Homo sapiens: one gene and its partners. The protein of the gene in region 1 interacts with the protein of each later gene in a pairwise test. Each region holds a gene or a part of one and is shown on either strand. Other genes may lie near its edges. The genes, in order: CAP2, GRXCR1 and DNM1L.

Region 1 (3,756 bases):
TTGTGAGGAAGAAGTGTTCACTGGGGGCTAGCCCTTTTGGGGAGACATCATATAGCAGACAGATGCTATGACAGGGCTAGTTAAGGGAAGAGTTCAGGCTTCAAGTTGAGGCTCGTTACTTTCCCCTCCAGACTAGCTAGTTATTTCTTAGTGGATTTCCCTGCCTCCTATCTCTTTCCAGTCCTATATACCACCACCAAACTAACCATTGCTATCATGATTATGCTCAAAAATGGTCAATAGTCCCCCAGTGCCTACTACTTAGGCTTCAAACATTTTAGGCTGAGATTGAAGGCCTCTACCAGCCAGGGCCTAACCTTCCTTCCATACCTGGCTTCCACAGCCCTCCAATCCAGCTAAACTCACAGACTGTCCTTCATACATGCCATCCTTTATTACCTCTCCACTTTTGTCCCTGCCCATCATCTTGAGGGTTTTTCCTCCACAATCCACTCTTAATGTCTCATTTCCGCATGAAGACTCAACTTTCATGTCCATCAGAAAGTGTTCTCTAATCCCCAGTCTAGAAGCAACCTTCCTTTCTTCTGAACATCCATGGAAATTTGTTCATACTTCTTTTAGAATGTTTTTTACGACATTCCTAGAACTGTGGTTATTTTTATACTCTTCACATCTTCCTACTATATTATCAACCTAAAGACAGGATTTGTGGCTCATCCACTCTTAGACTCCATAATACTTTATACTCCAATAAAAAACAGATGTAGCTAAGGAAATACTGTGCTAATGTTTGTTGAAGTTAGTGCTAAAAAAAAGTCATATGAATGGATGCTTGGAACTTCCCTGTGATCCTGCACACATTGATTCTTATGGATATATATTTTTTCTGCATTTCTGGAACACAAATGTTCTAAATGCATACATACTTCATCCATCCATCCATTCATTCATTATTTAATACAAACATATTGAATGCCCGCCATATGCAAGGTATCCACAGGATAGGGAGGGTGCTGGCTCTGGCTTTATGCAATGTACGCACTCATTGATCAATGTTTATGTCATTTTGTTTCCCTTCTTTCCAGACAAAGGGAAGCAAAGACTCACTGCACCTCATTACTGTCAGCAGAGAGCAATGTGTAATTGGAATGACCTTTGTATAAGTGCTGACCTATGGGGTCAGAATAAGCCTTATAATGTACAGAACCAACTTATGTGCAATTTTAACATCGACAGAGAATATTGGCCTTTAAGAAATTCATCTCATATTTATTGTTTGGAGATTTTACTTTCAGAAGATATCAGTTACATTTCCCCTCTTTTTTTCTCTTTTCTGCAATTATTTTCCTGGCATTCATTCAATAAAGAGCTTCAAGTCACTTTTTTAGACTGAAATAAACTTTGATGAAAATTGAAAATCAATGCTTTCCTTCTAATGACGTTAAGAGAAAAGCCTCCAATTTTGCAATTATAATCAATATATAAAGGGGAAGTGGCCACAAATATGCTGCACATCTTAAGAAGCCAAGTGGGTTTGGTTACTTTAATTTTTAAATAATCAGGACATTTAAAAAGTTGCTGTTTATAAAATACTTTTTAAAAATGTCATCACACGCACTATGAGTGCACTCAGTCTTGATGTCTCGCTAAAGCATTAGCTGTCTAGCTCCTTCTCCTCCCAGAGCCTTTATCCTCATATTGGGTCTGGGGACACACATGCCGTCTCTTGATTCCTAAGGATCCATTACCCATTTCTCTGCACAGATCTTCGGGTATCCAACCTATCTGTGCCTCCTTCAGCCAGGAGCCTCCGGATCTTTCCAGACTTCTTTGCAATACTGCCTCATGCACTGAATCCATTTCTCGCATAGCCTGGCGCTTGGCAGGCAGGCTGGCGTTCCCTGGCTCTGCCTTCCCCATCTCCCTGTCTTTTCTCCCACGGCCCATCTGCCCCTCCTTTCCTCCACCCCCTTCTCCTCTCTGCTCCCCTTTATTTCCACTCCCCACCCGCGTGGCTTTGCTCTCCCTCTCCCCCCTCAGCTCGTCTGTATTTGGAGCTCCGGAAGCTGCCGGCGACTCTCCCCTGGAGCAGCGTGACTGACACCGGCTCCTATTCAGCTGGGAGGAGGGAGAGGGGAGGAGAAGGGGAGGGCCGCGGGAGGAGGGTACGAGTGGCCGACCACGGATTTGCATTGCCGAGGACGGGACCCCAGGGCAGCGAAGCAGGTAATCCTGCAGCGGTCGGGGCCCGGCGAGGCGGGGAGGGGTCGGGGTGCAGGTGCGGGGGGCGCCTGGCGGCGGGCGCTGGCAAGTTGAGCCCGATGGGTGGGGTAGGGAAGCGGCCGGGACGCTGCGGCTGTGGCAGCAGCGCGAGGGGAATAAAGGCGGCGCGGGCGCGGGGGCCGGGGCGCGGCGACCCGGGCGCGGGGCGCGGGCGCGGGCGGACTCCCATCTGGGTCAGCGGAGCGGCGCGCCCTGCCCCCGCCTCCCCAGCTCCGGCGTCCTGGCCGCTCGGAAGGCGGGGTGCGGGCAGGAGCTGCCCGGGGTTGGCGGGCGGCCGCGGCCTCCCCACCCCAGCGCCGCCGCCCGCCCGGCCGCTCTAACTTTGGGGGGTCTCGTCCACCGGGCTGTGAGTCTTCCAGGGGGGTGGGGGTGGGAGTCATTGCGCCGGCTCTGACCAGAGCCACCTCGATCAGAAAGTGCTGGAAAGAAACAGACCTGGCTTCCCCTCTGCAGAACCTGACTTGAGGCGATGAGTCACTTCTAAAAAATGCAGAGGCAACTGAGACTGGGGGAACGGCTCGGAAAAACGGCACCCGCCGCTGGCTCTCTGACTGCTTTGGGTAGAGGGGTGTTCGTGGAAGTAGCCGCCGTATCATCACTTTTAGGGCCAAAAATCAACCTGCAGATGGCCTTTTCTTTATTCTCATCAGAGTGGTGTTCGCTGCAAGTTGTAGCAATATTTGAATGGATGCATTCTTAAAAATGAGTATGTATGGGTGACTGCATTTAGGAAGTTGAACCGGGACTAGGTCCAAACAGCCAGAGTGGAGATGAACACTTGGTAAAAACATCTAGGACCTTTGGTTTTATAGTTATGGAAATGCAGAAGCTTCTGGGACTTGAGCACTGTAGTTTACTGAGTACTCCTATTTCCTTACTGCTTCTGTAGATTTCATTGAAGCTATGTTCCTTAGAATTCTTGGTAAACTATCTAAGCCCACTTAGTGTAAAATTACAACGGTAGAGTGAACTTTAGAGAATTGGATTTATAGTTACTAGAGTCTAATTAGACTGCAAGCCTCTTGAAAGCAAGGATGGGTTGTTTGGTAGTTCCTACGGCACCAAACAGTATTTGGCTCACAGCATGTAATGGATAGACAATAAAAGTGTGTGAAATAGTTAATTCAGTACCTTAAGTGTAGATGGAGCATGACTTCTTGAATATACTGCATATTTTGCAAGGAAAGGCGACTTCTCCATGAATCCCGAAATTTAAAAAATTCTTAATAACATTACAATCAAAGTGTCATATAAATACTTCTTAAGGATAAAGAGAAAAAGAAGTTGACTATGAGAAATCAGGAAGGTGATTATCAAGGTGGTCTTTGCTAGTAGGAAGTAAGTTTTTGTTCCCCATCGTTAATGTGAGAAGTAATTTAATTTGTTGATACAGGGTAGGGTTTGGTAAACCTTTGAGTTAAGAGCTAGATAGTAAACATGTAGGTTTTGCAGGCCATATGGTCTCCTTAGCAACTACTCAGTTCCACAGTTATAGTTTGAAAGCAGCTAAAG
Region 2 (3,756 bases), on another chromosome or scaffold:
CAGGAATTGGGTTTTAGTCCTCACATTATCTAACATATTTTTTGTCTCACGGTAGATATGCAGTAAATAGTTATTAATGAATGATTGAAAATGATCAAAAGAAAGAATGGAATGAAGCAAGCCAGCAACACTTCGCCATGCAAACTCTAGTCCTGTCCGTTATGGGAAATCTCCAAACCCAAAAGAGATGGAGAAGAGGAAAATAACCACTAAGAGGGTTAATTCATTAACTCAAGGAAGAAAATTTATTGAGGTCCTACTCAGTATGTGCGCTAATACCATAAGCAAGAGCCAAGGATGGTATGTGCAAGGTGGTCACAGGACTCTAAGTTCTATCAGTTTACAATTCTTTAATTGTGCATAAATATCAGTAGTACCAACTCATCTTTGCTGCTTTTTCTTTCCTGCTTTTTACATAAGTCACTTAATCTCTTAGTGTAGTTTCTCGCATCATTTGGAATTGTATCAAAAATCCTAGAGCTTCTTTACCTACCTCTTAATATCTAAAAAGATAATATTTCCATTAATACATGATAGTCTTGACAGAACACTACATAAGAATTTCTCAGGATACATAACATTTTAAATCCTATAAATTAATGTTTCTGTCAGAGAAGAAGCTCAGATCATAATTAATTGATAATTAATTGATTAATAGTAATATACCTCACAGGGTTGTTGTAAGGAATAAATATCAATGCACATAAATAATGTCAACAGTGTCTAATATTCAATAAGTACTTAATGCTAATTATTTTCCCAGAGTGGTCCAAATGAACCACTGGGACTAAGGAGTCATCAAGAATATCACCTTGTTTTTACTGAACTATTATTCTATTATCGGAGTTTGATTCAGTGAACCAGAGATGCATAATAAATACTGCTGGAAAGGTGTGTTAACACTACCCATCCTGAGATAGTGAACCACTGTAAGCACCAGTATACTTGAGGTAAACAAGTCATCCTCTTTCAGTGTCAATCCTTGCAACCTCATGACACTTTAATCAAACGATGTTATAGAAATGATATAAACCTTTTAAAAATACAATTCAAAGCTGAATTGAAGCTATTTAACTCTGCAGAAAAAAAAACCTTTCTAGATGAAGATCAAATGTTCAATAAATGATAAATTGTAAAACCTGCTAACTAAATGTTGAAATTTCAAAAGGCCAGATTATATAATAACATGATATGTTTAGTCTTATTACATGATACATTTAGTCTTCATGTTTGTTATCATGACATTTCAAAACATAAAGTTGGGAGTTTATGCATATAGTACAACACTTTTGAAAACTGTGAAAGCCAAAACAGCAAAGGGCAGAGTTCTTGCATTACTAGCTTTGGGCCAGAGACTGGATTTCTCTCACACTTAGTTATCTAAAAACAGACATAATAAGAATAATAATAATAATAATAATAATAATAATAATAATAGTAATAACTTTTCTGTTCACTTTATAAACTTTTGGGCACAATTAATTAAAATAATATATGTGAAATCCCTGTGTAAAATGCAAAATAACATTTTATTCCTCATTACTGAAAAATTTTAGAAAAATTATTTACTTTCTTTAAAAATTAGCCATTGTTACTTCATGCTAAAGAAATTACAAAATCACCACACAGCTCATACCTCTCAGTAGCCAGTTGACATCATTAAATTTGAGGTATACTTTGTTCTTAGCAGCAAAATATTTCCAAAATCTCTCAGAATGAGTCCTTAGGTTTTTCCACAAACATACTGGTTTTTCCACAAACATACTACTTTTATTTCATTTGTCTTGAAATATTAGAATGCTTATAAATACAATCACACTAACCGGAAATATCCATGTACATACATAGACGGAGGTTATATGTTTAATTTGAGTTCCTAGAAAGGAAATGCCAAATTATAGTATGTGTTGTAATTATTTTCCTTCTTTGCACCTATTTATCTCTAATACAGTAATTTTAAATTTGGAGAAGGAAAGGAAATTAAAATTATGGAAATGACAGTACAATATTCTAACAGTTTATTCACACAGTTTGAGGATAAGGTCAAGAAAAAAATCGCTGTCTGAAATGTAATCTCATAAGAATAAATTATCAAAAATAAGCAGCCTTAATTATCTGCATCATTGACCCACTCTAAGAGAATTTGGAAATATTTTGCTGCTAACAGCAAAGTATATCTCAAATCCAATCATGTCAACTGTGTACTGACAGGTATGAGCTATATGTTGATTTTATAATTTGCTTAGCATGAAGAAACAATGGCTAATTTTTAAAGAAAGTAAATATATTTTTAAAATTTTCCAGTAATGAGGAATAAACTTATGTATCTAGATAGAGATATTCTAAGAGCAGAATTTCTTAAAGAGTATTAAAAAGAGACCAACTACATCAGAGTGTCCTGGTAAGATTTCTGGACCTGTTCTCAAATTAACTGATAAATTTGAATATTCATGGGAAACATGGCTGTTGGGATAACCTTTATTCATCTTTGGCTCAGAAAAATTTTTCTGATAATCTAACCTGATCAAAAGAATGAATAACAAGTCATTGCATATCTCATTCATTTTCTTTATTAAATATTGAAGAGATAAGGAACATTAATATTTTTATTTACCCTTGGGAACTGGATGAATTTCTCTTTGATACTCTAGGTCAATGATTCTCAAGCCTTAGTGCATGTAAGAATAACCTAAAGAACTTCTAGTAAACGCCTATTTCCAGGCCACAGTCATGGCTAGATTCTAGGTTTTCAGATTTCCAAATTGGCCTCTCTCGAGCTCTGTATTCTTGTTATCTCTGGGAGAGTTGGCAAATTCAACCACCTGGAGCTGAAGCGCCATAATCTAGAACAGCTAGAGACATTTTGCTTCACCATTAACCACTCTCTACAACGCCCACCTGAGCAGCCAGGTGGCCTTCTGCTTTTTGCCTCCTGGTTCATCACTACCTTTAACAACCTTGATTAATTTTGCACATCATCAAATACCCAGGATTATATAAGGTAAACTAATTGACCAATAAAATGGAAATTCATTCTGATATTCCTTTAATAGACAACTTTCTAAGTAAGTGCTGCTACAAAGTAAAAATATTTTAAGGCAAAAATTGCAATGACTTTTTTCTGTGCAGTTGAAATTTTTGCAGGACATATACCAATGTTTTATGAGACAGGGATAAAAGAGTGGGAAACTAATACAGAAGAAGCAAGTGATTGACAGGGTCTTTGAAATATTTTATTTATATTTAGGGTTTTCTTTCACGTTTAAGGTTAAGTGCTTTAAGGTTTTAAAACTTAAAAAGAAAAGCCTCACTGTTTCTTCAATCACAGTTCCTTGCTTCAATAAGATTGGCTGTGCATTGAAACCTTAATCAAATATCCAAGATACCGACTGCTCACTTTTTCCTCCCTGAGGGAGATTACTAAATTACATCCAGTCAAGTTTACCGCTTACTTTGCAAGGGATATGGAAAATATATAGGGGGAAAAGTCATATCTGGTAAAGGGTATAGGAATAACTGAATAATAACTTCTGCTTCTAGCCCCTGGGGCTTCTCTGTGGGATGCCTATGGGAATATACACTATCATCCTAAGACATATGCCTAAGATGTACATTACCCCAAATGACATACACATACCTTAAAAAGTGTGGCAAGCATCCAAATCAGATCTCTACATAATGTTGAGTAGGGTGTATTGCACAACTTTAAGGGGTACCATTCATGCAGACAATGGGGAATGGAGCTCCTTGGGCAAT
Region 3 (3,756 bases), on another chromosome or scaffold:
CAGCAGAAGAGAAACTAAAAATGTGAGTCTCTTGCTTCAGAATGGAAATGTTGGTACCTTTGGTTCTCACTGAAACACTGTCTATACCACCATTAAAGAACCTGTTTGTGTAGTGGTATCTATCTCTTGTCTGTGTTATGTTCTTAATGTTCCTTTTATCTAACCTGTGGAAGATGGCATTAAACGTTGTTTTAATTAGTAACAATAATAGGCTTTCTCACTGTTTTGTTACCTTCAAGAATAGTTTTAAATTTAGTATTTTGGTAGGAAATTCAGAGATTTCCTAGATTTCAGAGATGGAATTGTATTTTTGGACATTTCCTTTCCTCTTTAAAGATCTTGAGATCTGTTCAGTACTAATAGATCTAATGCTTCTTTCTTATGCTTCCAGTTAGTTTGCACTTGTTACCCTATATATAGCTTCACATATGCTTCAGAAGCTTAAGCAAATTAAAAAAACAAATGGGGACTGTGAGAGTTTGAGACTGTTTTCAATTCTTGATAACCATTTTAGAGGAAAATTAAATAATGTATAAATTATTCAGACTCATCGCTATTTCAAGATTTTCTGCCATTTAGCTCCTTTCCTTAATTATCCAGATTTAAAGTTCTGAACTTCAAATAAAGGTTTATAAATGTCTTATCTTCTCTCAGCCCACTGTGCTCAGATATTAATCAAACCATCTAAATCACTGCACAAGTTTTATTTCATTCATGACGTCACACTGAATGTGCTCTCTCTCCTTAAGATTTCATTTGGTATGTCATTCATGTATAGTTAACAAACATTTAAAAATCTAATTACTCATTTTTAAGTTAATGTGTAACATAAATATACTACTTATATTTAAATGTAGTTCACCTTAACTGACATACTAAAGACAGATTTTAGCAAATATTTTGATTCAGAATGATACCTCAAACTACCATTTTTCTAACTGCCATAATCCTCTATTAAACTTATATAATCCATTTTTAGATTGTAAGATCTTAAAGAATACCTAAAAAAAACCCTCTTAAATGTTGATGAATTGTTTTTCCATTATAAAGTCATTTTTGACTTTTAGAAGTCAAGACTAATACATTTTCTAGAAAACAAGGTACAAAAGCACTTGTGATTAATGGTAGCACTAGATTTCTTTCAGCAAATCCTTAAGAGTACAGAGGTTGAGGGGACTTCTGTTGTTTGTCACATTCCGCATTTGAAACAACTCACAGTGACTGTCAGCCTAAGAATAGCAAATGTAGTCTTGCTTTTTGTTAAAGAGTTCTTACTTATACCTTATGGCATTTTTGTTGACTATTAGAAATGTAAATTGAGAAACATATAAACTCTTAAGTTCAGAGACGTAAGTTCATGGAACTTTTAGAGTTTAACAGTGTTAATGATTACTTAAGAAATTAAACTGAATAGCAGTTCTTTGTGCTTTTAACGAGTAGTTTTGTTTTTAAGGGCAGCATATACTTTTCCTACAATTTAGTGTTTGAAGGGTGGGAGAAGAGGAACGATTTTGAAAAGTTAGCGAATGATAAAGAAAAAAGGAATTAAATAGAACATAAGTTGGTTGATGCCTTGCAAACAACTTAGAGCAGAACTTCTTTATTATTTAGATAGGTCAGGGTTCCAGTTATACATGCTACCTAGTGTCTCCTTCTGACCTCATTATCTGTCTGAATAAACTTCAGATGGGTACTGGATGTATATTGACTACTGTCAAATAAAATGAACTTTGTTTTAGTTAAGGTCAGATATGATGTGGTTGGTATGTTTTGGAACATGTTTTTTCAGGTTGCATCTGGAGGTGGTGGGGTTGGAGATGGTGTTCAAGAACCAACCACAGGCAACTGGAGAGGAATGCTGAAAACTTCAAAAGCTGAAGAGTTATTAGCAGAAGAAAAATCAAAACCCATTCCAATTATGCCAGCCAGTCCACAAAAAGGTCATGCCGTGAACCTGCTAGATGTGGTAAGCCATGACAATTTGGTTTAGGTAATAAGGTAGGTGACCAAGTTAGTAGGAAAACGATTAGACAGAAAGAACTAAAAGTCTCAAAAACTTACATAACTTTCAGATGTTAAAGCTGCCATTTTAGTGTCACAAAAGTAATATTTTTTCCCCCTCATCCCTATTTAGCCAGTTCCTGTTGCACGAAAACTATCTGCTCGGGAACAGCGAGATTGTGAGGTTATTGAACGACTCATTAAATCATATTTTCTCATTGTCAGAAAGAATATTCAAGACAGGTTAGTATTACTTAATATAAATGACGGACTTTAATACTTCTGGATGATTCTGTGATCTGTTTTGAAAAATACATGTATTTTTACAATTTTAGGTTTTTATTCTAAATCATCAAGTGGATTTTCTGATAGTCCTTGGGTAACTTGTAGCAAGACCCATTTTGTTAACATAGAATGACTAGGACCTCATGTATCAGCTAGAAAAAGCTATTAAAAATGAGAGATTCTTTTGTTCTATCTGGCTGCCACATTTTGAGTCATTTAAGAAAATCTTTTTCCTAAATTTTAATTTAGTAGTTTCATTAATTATTTTGGCTAGTAACACTGACTTGCCTTTTTAATTTAACTTGGTTTTCCAAAGTATCAAAACGAATGTCTTTTACTAGGAAATATGTGTATTTTTTCTCGTTCAGAATGTTTTTTCATGTGTCTAGTCCCTACTGCATCTTCTCCTTCATGTTGCCTGGTATGTCATTTCATGCAGTAATAGGGAGAATATACATTTAGTTGTGTGAAGTGATCTATTAGAAAATATTCTGCATCCAGTTTTTGGTAATCTGTCAGCAGCTAAGATGAATTTTACTGCACAGAGTAATAAACAGTCTAATACTTCATATTGAAATAAATGATTTTTGTCTGTAGAACCATTTATCTTTTTTGCTTGTAGACTTTTTAAACCCGTAGCTTGTAGTAGAAATAACAGTTCCTAGTGTTTTACACTGTGGGCCTGAAGAAAAAAATTCCATTTGTTTCCTTCCTTGCCCCCATCCTCTGCAGAAGGTGTTTTTGAGATGGAGTCTCGCTTTGTCGCCCAGGCTGGGGTGCAGTGGCGCAGTCTTGGCCCACTTCAACCTCTGCCTTCTGGGTTCAAGCGATTCTCCTGCCTCAGCCTCCTGAGTAGCTGGGATAACAGGTGTGCACCACCATGCCCAGCTAATTTTTGTATTTTTAGTAGAGACGGGTTTCACCATGTTGGCCAGGCTGGTCTCGAACTCCTGACGTCAGGTGATCTACCTGTCTTGGCCTCCCAAAGTGCTGGGATTATAGGCGTGAGCCACTGCACCCGGCTCACTTAATGTTTTTAAGCCTCATCCATACTGTAGTATGAATCAGTATAGTCACGCACCACATAACATTTTAGTCAACAGACCACGTATTTGAATGTGTTCCCGTTAGATTATGATACCATGTTTTTGCTGTACATTTCCTATGTTTAGATACACAAATACTATTGTGTTACAGTTCCCTATTCAGTACAGTAACATGCTGTACATGTTTGCAGCCTGGAGCAATAGGCTATCCCATATAGCTTAGGCGTGTCATAGGCTATACCATCTACGTTTGTGTAAGTACACTCTGTGCTGTGCATGTAATGAAATCACCTAATAATGCATTTCTCAAAGCATATCCGTGTCATTAAGTGACATATCTTTTGTGTGAATAATACTAGATTATGTAGATATACTGTGTTTAAGCATTCATCAGCTGATGTTTGGATTTTTCTCACTTCTTGGC

What was found.
Region 2: the proteins of CAP2 (region 1) and GRXCR1 interact in binary tests that used the Homo sapiens proteins (3 or more experiments, as listed by UniProt).
Region 3: the proteins of CAP2 (region 1) and DNM1L interact in a two-hybrid assay, tested with the Homo sapiens proteins (one study listed by BioGRID).

The regions. Positions count from the first base shown.
Region 1 is NC_000006.12:17,391,560-17,395,315, forward strand, and holds the start of CAP2 (adenylyl cyclase-associated protein 2), read left to right. Parts: upstream 1-2,035; 5' UTR 2,036-2,187; intron 2,188-3,756. UniProt on the Homo sapiens protein: Involved in the regulation of actin polymerization.
Region 2 is NC_000004.12:42,895,603-42,899,358, reverse strand, and holds part of GRXCR1 (glutaredoxin domain-containing cysteine-rich protein 1), read right to left. Parts: intron 1-3,756. UniProt on the Homo sapiens protein: May play a role in actin filament architecture in developing stereocilia of sensory cells.
Region 3 is NC_000012.12:32,738,275-32,742,030, forward strand, and holds part of DNM1L (dynamin-1-like protein), read left to right. Parts: coding exon 1-22; intron 23-1,789; coding exon 1,790-1,966; intron 1,967-2,134; coding exon 2,135-2,244; intron 2,245-3,756. UniProt on the Homo sapiens protein: Functions in mitochondrial and peroxisomal division.